3 separate regions of the Homo sapiens genome follow, and all the other regions are reported to be linked to region 2. Evidence: microRNA targets listed by miRTarBase, many of them from high-throughput screens and not tested one by one. Region 2 holds a microRNA gene; each other region holds the end of a gene's coding sequence.
Evidence for each region. The annotated mature microRNA hsa-miR-1255b-5p reads CGGAUGAGCAAAGAAAGUGGUU and lies in region 2 at 2,167-2,188, opposite strand. An mRNA with a match to its seed (bases 2 to 7 or 8) in the 3' UTR can be bound and repressed. Matches are read on the target gene's strand: a 7mer-m8 pairs with bases 2 to 8, a 7mer-A1 pairs with bases 2 to 7 and ends in A, and an 8mer does both.

Region 1: miRTarBase lists KCTD5 as a target of hsa-miR-1255b-5p. Seed matches in the 3' UTR shown: 7mer-m8 at 1,997-2,003.
Region 3: the mRNA of CAPN6 is a reported target of hsa-miR-1255b-5p. Seed matches in the 3' UTR shown: 7mer-A1 at 1,285-1,291.

What each region holds. Positions count from the first base shown.
Region 1 is chr16:2,706,618-2,709,872 of GRCh38, forward strand. It overlaps KCTD5 (potassium channel tetramerization domain containing 5), which reads left to right. Exons shown (of 6, transcript NM_018992.4): 6 at 681-2,413. The coding sequence ends at 710. Among named protein-coding and RNA genes, the nearest start is that of PRSS27, 12 kb to the right of the region's middle.
Region 2 is chr4:36,424,239-36,427,493 of GRCh38, forward strand. MIR1255B1 (microRNA 1255b-1) reads right to left here and starts at 2,190; the gene lies at 2,128-2,190.
Region 3 is chrX:111,243,704-111,246,958 of GRCh38, reverse strand. CAPN6 (calpain 6) reads left to right here. Exons shown (of 13, transcript NM_014289.4): 13 at 200-1,860. The coding sequence ends at 382. Among named protein-coding and RNA genes, the nearest start is that of CAPN6, 25 kb to the left of the region's middle. RefSeq lists an enhancer at 1-719.

The sequences.
Region 1 (3,255 bases), not on the chromosome of region 2:
GGAAGTGGGGAGGGTACCTTGAGGAAGAGTTTTGAGGAGATTGGAGGGTGGGGAGGGCAGGGGGCCGAGGGGCCGTGGGCTCTGCAGGGCTGACGTGGTACAGATGAGGAGGGGATCCCCGCAGCGTGATCTGCACTTGGGGTAGGGCCCTCTGAGGGCTGGTGGTTGTTCCATGGGGCAGTCGGGAGGGGCCAGCACATGAGGTGGGCTGGCCAGGCTGAGGTGCAGGGCCGAGGGCTTGGGTGAGGGGCATCTCCAGGAGGGTCCGGGCGTCGGGGTGGGGGTGGGGGCTGCAGTGGGCATGGAGGAACAGAGGGAGAGACTTAATTGGGGAGGGGGGACTGGACTGCTGAGGGACCCGCGGGCCGAGTTGCGCTTCATGTCTGAGGCCCAGGACTGAGTGGGCTGAGAGGCCCAAGAGTCAGCGCCTTTGGGTGGGTCTGGGAGGGGCTGCCATGCACAGTGAGCGCTCCCTGTGTGGGGCCTGGAGATGTGCCAGACACCCCGGTGAAGGTCCTGGGCCTGCCAGCTGAGTCCCCAAGACCCTGGCCAGTGCCGCTGGGTTCCCGGGGCTCCCCGAGCTAACCCCAGGCCTGTGGGCTCTGTTTTCTGGAGCAGGCGCCTGGTCAGGGACACCTCCTCAGCCCAAGTCCTCATTTTATGCATTTGGTGTTTTTCAGATTTTGCAAGAACGAGGCTCAAGGATGTGAGGGACACAGTATTGACAGCTGAAGAAATGATTTACGTTTTCCCGAGATGTAATGAACTGCCATGTCCAGGAAGCTTGGCTGTGAGAAGAAACCTGCTTTTGATCATTTTTCTAGAGATCTGGGTGTGAATCCTTTTTTGCCTCTGAGGTGGGTGGTGAGAGACGGGCCCAGCTGTCCAAGGCCAGACGTCCCCAAGTTGGGGGAGCACGGCGGCCGGGTGGGCGCTGCCTCTTGGGGGGGCCTCGCTCTGTTTTTTCCAAGTGCCACGTGGGACTGAGGCAGACACTCCCAGTCAGCCCGCTCGATCCTGAAGATCGTGTGAAGGAAGCGTTCTTGGTGCTACACACAGTCTGGAAAAGCAGCCTGGGCTTCACTGGCAGGAAGCGGCCGCAGCCGCGTCAGTGTCCAGCACGTCGTGGCCTCTGGTCCGACCACCAGGCCCTAGTCTCGGTCAGGGAGTCTGCTCTGCCTCCCAGGCGGGATCGCTGGTTTCTCTCGACCTCGCAGAGCTCCTGACAAAGGCGGCTTCTGCGTCGTCACTGCTTCCCGGCGCCATTCCGAGGCCGGGCCTTCTTCTGACACGGGCTCCAACCCCACCTGACCAAGCCCGGGACAGTCAAGGCTTCTCAATTTGTATTTTCCAGGCAAGAGAACTTTGTACCCCTTCTCTGTGTGGATAGACTCCCCAGCGTTTTTCCTCTGGAAATGCCCACAGGGCTTGCCGCGTGGAGACTGATCTGTTCCATCCGTTAGCGCGAGGTAGCAGTGTCGCCTCGCCCCTCCCACTGCGGGCTCACGGGGAGCTGGCGTCTGTCAGTGCCTTGTCACGCCTGGCATAGAGGTTGGGCTGGAGGCCTGTCCACTGGCTTCTGGAGCTGAAGGTCTGCGTCACGGTGAAAATTCGGGATGTTTACAGAGCATCACAAATGCCTCTCTCTCGCCGCTCTCTCATTTTCTTTGTATAACTATGCAGCCTTCCCTCTCTTTCTGGGATGTTTGGGACTTCACTCGACCTGCACGGGCTCTGCCCGACATGCCGTGGGAGCTGCTGGGATTCCTTTAGAAACCGCTGCCCGCATGCTTTGAAAACAGACCTTTCTCAGCTGGCTGTGGGGACCTGTCAGAGTCTGGGGACTCGGCGTGCAGGGCGGGCTCCAAGCGCTTTGCTTCCGGAACTCCGGCTTCCCAAGGGGTACTGTGCAGACTGACCACCGGCCTCCCGCCTGCAGGTCAGAGGCTCTGACACTGTCTGGTTTCCAATGCTTCTGGAGACTTCCTGCCTAGGCCTCATCCTCCTCTTTGCCAGTCACCTGATTAACCAATTCTCCAGCATTAGGACTTACCTCCTTCTTTTTGTAAGGTCTCTTGTATGTTGTTAAATGTTTGGCTTAAACAATTTATAAAAGCCTTTCTAGAAGGCAGACTTAGCCCCAGCAGAGCCTGGGAGGAAGGCGGCCGCTGGGGCTCCTGGGCATCCTCTCTGGGGAGCTGCTGGCCGCTTAGCGTTGTTTGATTTTTGACCTTGACATAGTAGATAGGCTTGTGGTTTTTTTAATTTAAAGATATTAAGACTTAATTCACTAAAATTTATTCTAAGGGGATATTTATACTTTTATACTTTTTTAGGTATCGTATTTTATCAGCTTACAGTTTAATGCCTAAGTTTCCCCTGGAAATAGCAAATAAAATTGTGTATTTATGAATGCGCGTAGTAGCTGTTTATGGTCTTAAGATGCAGGGGAATGCCACCCCGGGTCGCTCGGACCAAGGTGCTGCCCCTCCAAGCCGCCCAGCCCCACTGGCCGCGGCGGCTCACTCAGGGCTCTGCCTCTGCCTCTCAGTCGATGGCCAGGGCGGAGCTGGGCCATCCACGGGGTGCCGGCTTGGCCAGGGTCACTGGATCAGAGCTGCACGGCCCATCCCTGCACCCCACTCTGCCTGGACCCCTCACCTACCTCCAGCAGATAGCATACCCCCATCCCGGGAGACCGGAGACCATGTACAAGGGCCTTTTTTTTTCCTTAAGAGACAGGGGTCTTGCTATGTTGCCCAGGCTGGTCTTGAACTGCTGGGCTCAAGTGATCCTCCTGCCTCAGCCTCCTGAGCAGTTGGGATTACAGGCGTGAGCCATTGCGCGCGGCTCAAGTGATGTTTTTTTGAAAGTCCTGATACCTCAAGTTAGCATCCACCTCTCTTCCCTCACTTTAGCCTGCAGCCTGGGTTGTGACAGCAGGAGCTTCCCGAGAAGGTCCTGGGGTCCCGGCACCCCCTCGCCAGCTGCTGTGACTCCTCCTGGTGGCTGCTCCACGAAGCCTTGGCTGTTGGACTCCCCGCCCCCCCGCAGGGAGATTCCCATTCACGGTGTCCCCCAGGGCCTGGCTGTCTGAGGTCACAGAGCCTCAGGCTGTAGTGGCCTTGTCCATCCTGTTTCCAGGTGTGTGGCTGGCCCAGCCTGACCCCAGGGCCCTGGTGAGGGGTGGAGTGGGTGACTGGGCTTCTGGGTGCCCAGCATGAGGCCGGCACGGGGCTTGGAGTAGGGGAGAGA
Region 2 (3,255 bases):
CTTCCAGCATTCACACAGATTGTGCAAACAGCAAATAGAAATAGAAATAGAAATAGAAATAGTTAAAGGTTAAAAAGAAGTATTTGATGAAAATATGTACTTTATTTTACCAACAGAAGAAATTATAGGAGACCAAGCTGTATGAGCCTGACACAGGGACAATCATAGCCTGACACAGGGACAATCATTAGAACTGAAGACAAACAGAGAACAAACACATGAACAAAAGAAAGACAATAACAAGAAAGTGCATAGACCCAGAACAGAAACAATTGCTTAGTCACTCATGGCTATGGGTTTTATCAACTCCTTAGCAGAGAAAAAAAGGTTTTTTTTTTTAACTCAATTGGTGTATTGTTTTATAATCTGTTTAACATAGACATATTAAAGTTAGTTATTTCCTAAACTGAATGTGGTTTATTCTGTAGTGTGATTGCAATAATTGTCAATTAATCATTTTACTGTTAAAAATAATATCTAGATTGGTCTTGCAGTTTACTTGTGTCCTCACAAATGGAATCTGTTCTAGAATGCATGCCTGGATATGGCCTTCCACTGTTGTAGATGATACCCATTTTAAAAAAAGTAAAAAAGAGCAGAGATAATCATGACCTTTTTGAATGGTACTATTAGTATTAATATCATTGTTATTTAATACTTTTGAAAAATGCTAAGTGATGAATAACTTAAGACAGTCATCCAGTAGAGTGAAGAAAAATACCGGTTGACAAAATCATCAGGGAAAACGTTATCAACTTTCACAAACTAGTAATAGTAGGACCTAAGTGATTTTATATAAGCATATGAAGTATATATTGCATAAATAGACATTAGTACACATTAGTTTCTAGTTCAATATTAATTTCCTATATATTTTCTAAGTGACATGCAATCTCAATAATTTTTTTTATTGTTTTTCCCCTTACTTCCTTTTAGAATTATGCTGCTTGATTTTGGAAAGAATTGTGTTCTTATGCTTTGTTTAACTTTTGCTAAATTCTTTCCTAAAGAAATAATGGCCATTATATTACATGTCAAAAGACACGATAATCTTGCCATATTCCTAAAATGTTGCTAATTTTGCCAATTGGGCTGTAAAAATTCCATCTTCAAATGACATTGGAATTGATACAAGTAATGAGAAAATTTTGAAGAAAATTAGTTAATTTAAAACACTCTTTTATTAGTGCTTTCTGTGAGCATTTTTCAGAAAAATGAAAAACTTAAGTATCACTTCATCCAATTAATTTTTGCCATGTCAGTGAAAGAATACTCTTTTGAGATTATGAATTTGAAGATGTATGAAATTCAAAATTGTAAGTCCTTTTTGGTAGATTTTCCATTTGCAAATAATTTAAAATTTGTTTCCTAGGTGACAATTCTTCAAAAAGGAGTTCAGGTTGAAACCTTATTATAGAAACCATGACAGAGACACGGATTTATTACTGCAGGAGAAAAATAGGCTACCCAATTTACAAACAGGCTGTAGTTTTCTTCTGAGATTTAGGGATGCACTTGGGCTTTAATATGTTGTTTCAATTGAAATATCTTCTCTATTTCAAGCAGATAGGTAGGTGACTTTGATAAACAAGCATACCTTGAAGATATTTCAGGCTTGGTTTTAGACCAACACAAAACAAGGGAATATCACAGTAAAAAGGAAGTCACACAATTTTTTGTCAGTTTCCCAGTGCATATACAGGTTAGTTTATATACTGCAGTCTTATTAATTGTGCAATAGCATCATGTCTAAAAATGCACATAGCTTAGTTAAAAATACTGTGTTGCTATAAATCTCTAATGACCATATGAGCCTTCAGTAAGTAGCAATCTTTTTGCTGATGGACAATCTTGCCTCAGTGTTGATGGCTGCTGACTGATCATGGTGGTGGTTGCTGAAGGTTGATGTGGCTGTAGCAATTTCTTAAAGTAAAATAACAGTGAAGCTTGCCACATCAATGGACACTTTTGCAAAATATTTCTCTGTAGCACACAATGCTATTTGACAGCATTTGACCCAGAGTAGAACTTCTTTCTAAACGGGAGTCAGCCCTCTCAAACCCTGTTGCTGCTTTATCAGCTAAGTTTGTGTAATATTCTAAATTCTTTGTTGTCATTTCAACAATGTTCACAGCATCTTCACAAAGAGTAGATTCCATTTTAAGAAACCACTTTCTTTGCTCATCCGTAAGAAACAACTTCTCATCCCTTAAAGTTTCATCATGAGATTGCAGCAGTTCAGTCACATCCTCAGGGCCCTCTTATTCTAATTCTTTTGCCATTTCTACCACATCTTCAGTTATTTTCTCCACTGAAGTATTGAATATCTCAAAGTTATCTATGAGTGTTGGACTCCCCTTCTTCCAAACTCCTGGTAACTATGATAATTTGACCTCCTCCCATAAATTACAAATGTTCCTAATTTCATATAGAATGGTGAAACCTTTGCAGAAGATTTTTCAACCTACTTTGCCCAGATCCATGAGAGAAATCACTATCTCTATAAGCTATAGCCTTATGCAATGTAGTTACTAAATAACAAGGCTTGAAAGTTGAAAAATACTCCTTGATCTGTGGACTGCAGAATAGACGTTGTGTTAGCAGACACAAAAACAAAATGAATATCCTGAGCAGTTTAGGCCAAAATGTTGGATTATAAGCACGTCATGTGCACTGCCCTCGTGGAGAGGAAACAAAAGGGTTAGTGAACACTGACGCTGTGGGTCGACCATCTGAGAAACCACATTAGGATCCACAAGGCAGCAAGGGACCATGGAGAGCAGAGAAGAGTGAAACTGGACACTAGCCTGTCTGAGCTCAGCACAGAGCCAGGAAAATCTCTCCAACATGGGAAAGGGTGAATGAGTGAGACCCCTGGGGGGATTCATGATCTTCACAGTGACCTGAGCAAGACTGGGAATGGGAGACTTCTGCCCCCACCCTACATCTCCCCACCATCCTTCTAGCCTGAGGCAGAGAGCTACCCAGCACTTTGCAGGAGCAACTCTCCAGTCGAAGGGGACCTCTACAATCTTTGGGCCCCAGAGCAGACCAATACCAATATGGCAGCGCATCATCACCTTAGCCCCAGTAGAAGTCATAGTTATGGTGTCTGGGAGCAGTAAGATTGCTCCACTCCCCCTTGCTGGACAGAGCTTGGCACCAGCTTTCAGCCCAGGAGTTCTGCTTTGGCCCGAACTCGACCAGCCAGTCCACTCACTCCCACCACTGGTAACTGGGTGGGCAATGCTTGCT
Region 3 (3,255 bases), not on the chromosome of region 2:
GAGATTCTGTTTTCTGGCTTTTCATGTATATTCTTTGAGGTATCCTCCCCTCAACTGATGGGCTATCAGGAAAGGACAGAATAGTCTCTTGGTTTTAAAACAAATCTTTTGAAGCTCAGCATTAGATCTGGATGTCACTGGGCAAAGGCTAATCTCACTGAGGGCTGCTCATCTTCACTCCCTTCGTTTGTCTTTCCAGGTCTGGAACAGCCGAAAATTCTGTGATCAGTTCTTGGGGCAGGTTACTCTGGATGCTGACCCCAGCGACTGCCGTGATCTGAAGTCTCTGTACCTGCGTAAGAAGGGTGGTCCAACTGCCAAAGTCAAGCAAGGCCACATCAGCTTCAAGGTTATTTCCAGCGATGATCTCACTGAGCTCTAAATCTGCAATCCCAGAGAATCCTGACAAAGCGTGCCACCCTTTTATTTTCCGTCAGGTGCCAGGTCTTAGTTAAGATTCACAATCTTTAGAAAGAATGAGATTCACAATAATTAACTCTTCCTCTCTTCTGATAAATTCCCCATACCTCCCAATCCAAGTAGCATCTGTAGCTACATAACCTATATACCTCCAGCAGCTGGACATGGGGAGGCGACAGTCCTATCTAGACATCATACACATTTGCCAAGAAAGGATCTCTGGGGCTTCCGGGGGTGAGATTCAAGTAGGACAATAACAAGAGGCTGGACACCCTACAGATGTCTTTGATGTTTTCAGTTGTTTGATATATCTCCCCTGTAGGGCATGTTGAGGAAGGAGGAGGGCTGATCAAGGCCAAGCTGGTCTAGCCTGACATCCTAGCTCCTGACTGAACACTATAGACTTCCCAGCAGCATTTCACCCAGCAGCCAGAGCCGGCTTTAAGTCCCCAACCCTTACAGACACCACTGCCACCACCACCAACCACGACCACCACCACCACCACCACTCACCACCATCATCACCTCCGGAAAGTGTAGTCCTGCCCTAACCCAAGTCACCCCCGACAGTAAATTTTACCTTCATGTTGAGAAAGCTTCCTGGTGCTTAATCAAGAGCTGGAGTTCAATGAGTCCTAGACAGTGAGAGGGGCCTGAGCTTCAGCTCAATGGAAGCCTGCTGTGTGCCACAAGACGGAAAAGTGGAAGAAGCTGCAGTGGGAGACAAAGCCTCGGTCCCCCACCCATCCACACACACCTACACTCACACACGCGCACATGGGCGCGCACGAACTACCATTCAGGCAGTCAGTGGGCAAGAGGAAAGATAAGTAAGTACCATACACACCTAAAAGATGAGAGAATTCATCCAGACATATTACAGCCAGTTTGGGGCCCCTGACTGCAATGTGAAACCTCTCGCTGCTGCTAGGTTTACAAACAAGCCCATTGTCCTGTGCCTCCTAATATCATTTGTACTGAAGACCCCATCTGGGGACTTGAGACTTTGGTCCCAGCCCAGACTCCTCAGACTTTTCTCTCAGTTGGGATGCTTCACTCGCTGGGGGTGTTTGTTTGCCCTCTCATTTTTCAGTACTTCTACAGAATTTTCTCTAGAGTCAGTCATTATGAAATGTACTTCCCTCCATCTTAACCTATCAACTTTCTGCCCCTCCTTCAAGGCCCAGTATAAATGCCACCTCCTCCATGAAGCCTTCCCTAATTCCACCCCAAACCCCCACCTTCAACAATATTTCAACGCTTCTGCAATGATGAAAAAGAAACATAGTTGTAGTACTTAGCCTACCTAGACCAGCAAGCATTCATTTTTAGCTCGCTCATTTTTTACCATGTTTTCCAGTCTGTTTAACTTCTGCAGTGCCTTCACTACACTGCCTTACATAAACCAAATCACAATAAAGTTCATATTCAGTACATTGATCAGTCTTGACTTGAATTGATGGCATGGGATGGATGGCAAGAGTGACCATCTGTTAAGACTTGTTTCAAAGCCACTGGAGGTGGGGGTTGAGGTACTTCATGAAATCTGAGCTCAGGTAAAAGTGTGATGGATTCAAAAGCCCTGGCTACACTCTGATGGTACAGTTCTTTGCATTCTGGGGTAGTTGGAAGAATGAAGAGGGGCCTTTATTTCATATTTAGGGACAGCTAGGTGCTATTCGGGGTTACTTGAGTTTGAAACTCCTATTTGGGATTGGACTCGAGGCCATAGGTACAGTAGCCAAATCTTTCAAGGGAAGATCTCTCAACAAGACAAAATACCAACTCCCCTTTCCCAGCATCTTCCTTAGAGCCGAAGGGATGTGTGAAGACTTCACTCATTTGCTTATACAACCTGCCATCTACCATCTTAGGGTAGGCAAAGGGGAAAATTCTTATTTTTCTTTCTGACATGAAAAAGTGCCTAACCAGGGGAGGGATCTCCAAAGGAGTAGCTCAGGAGAACAGTTCTCAAGTACAGCCCTCACTGTCTGTCCCTATAACACTAACCCAGAACACACTAGAGATTTACATGTTGTAGATTTTTGTTAGACATGAAATATCCCATGTGGATAATGCAGTCATTCCATATGGTCACCAGATGGCACTATGGTATTACAATTAAGCTCAAAGATGCTACTGCTTTTTTTTCCCCCCAAGGATGACAATTTTTCCCCAGACAAAAAAGGGTAGAATGCCCTCTTTCACCACTCATATTCAACATAGTATTGGAAGTTCTGGCCGGGACAATCAGGCAAGAGAAAGAAATAAAGGGTATTCAAACAGGAAGAGAGGATGTCAAATTGTCTCTGTTTGCAGATGACATGATTGTATATTTAGAAAACCCCATAGTCTCAGCTTAAAATCTCCTTAAGCTGATAAGCAACTTCAGCAAAGTCTCAGGATACAAAATCAGTGTGCAAAAATCACAAAGCACTCCTATACACCAATAACAGACAAGCAAAGAGCCAAATAATAAGTGAACTCCCATTCACAATTGCTACAAAGAGAATAAAATACCCAGGAATATAACTTACAAGAGACGTGAAGGACCTCTTTAAGGAGAACTACAAACCACTGCTCAAGGAAATAAGAGAGGACACAAACAAATGCAAAATAAAGCCATGCTCATGGATAGGAAGAATCAATATTGTGAAAATGGCCATACCGCCTGAAGTAATTTATAGACTGAATGCTATTCCCATCAAGCTACCATGAACTTTCTTCACATAATTAGAAAAAAAACACTTCAAATTTCATATGGAACCAAAAAAGAGCCCACATAGCCAAGACAATCCTAAGCAAAAAGAACAAACCTGGAGGCATCATGCTACC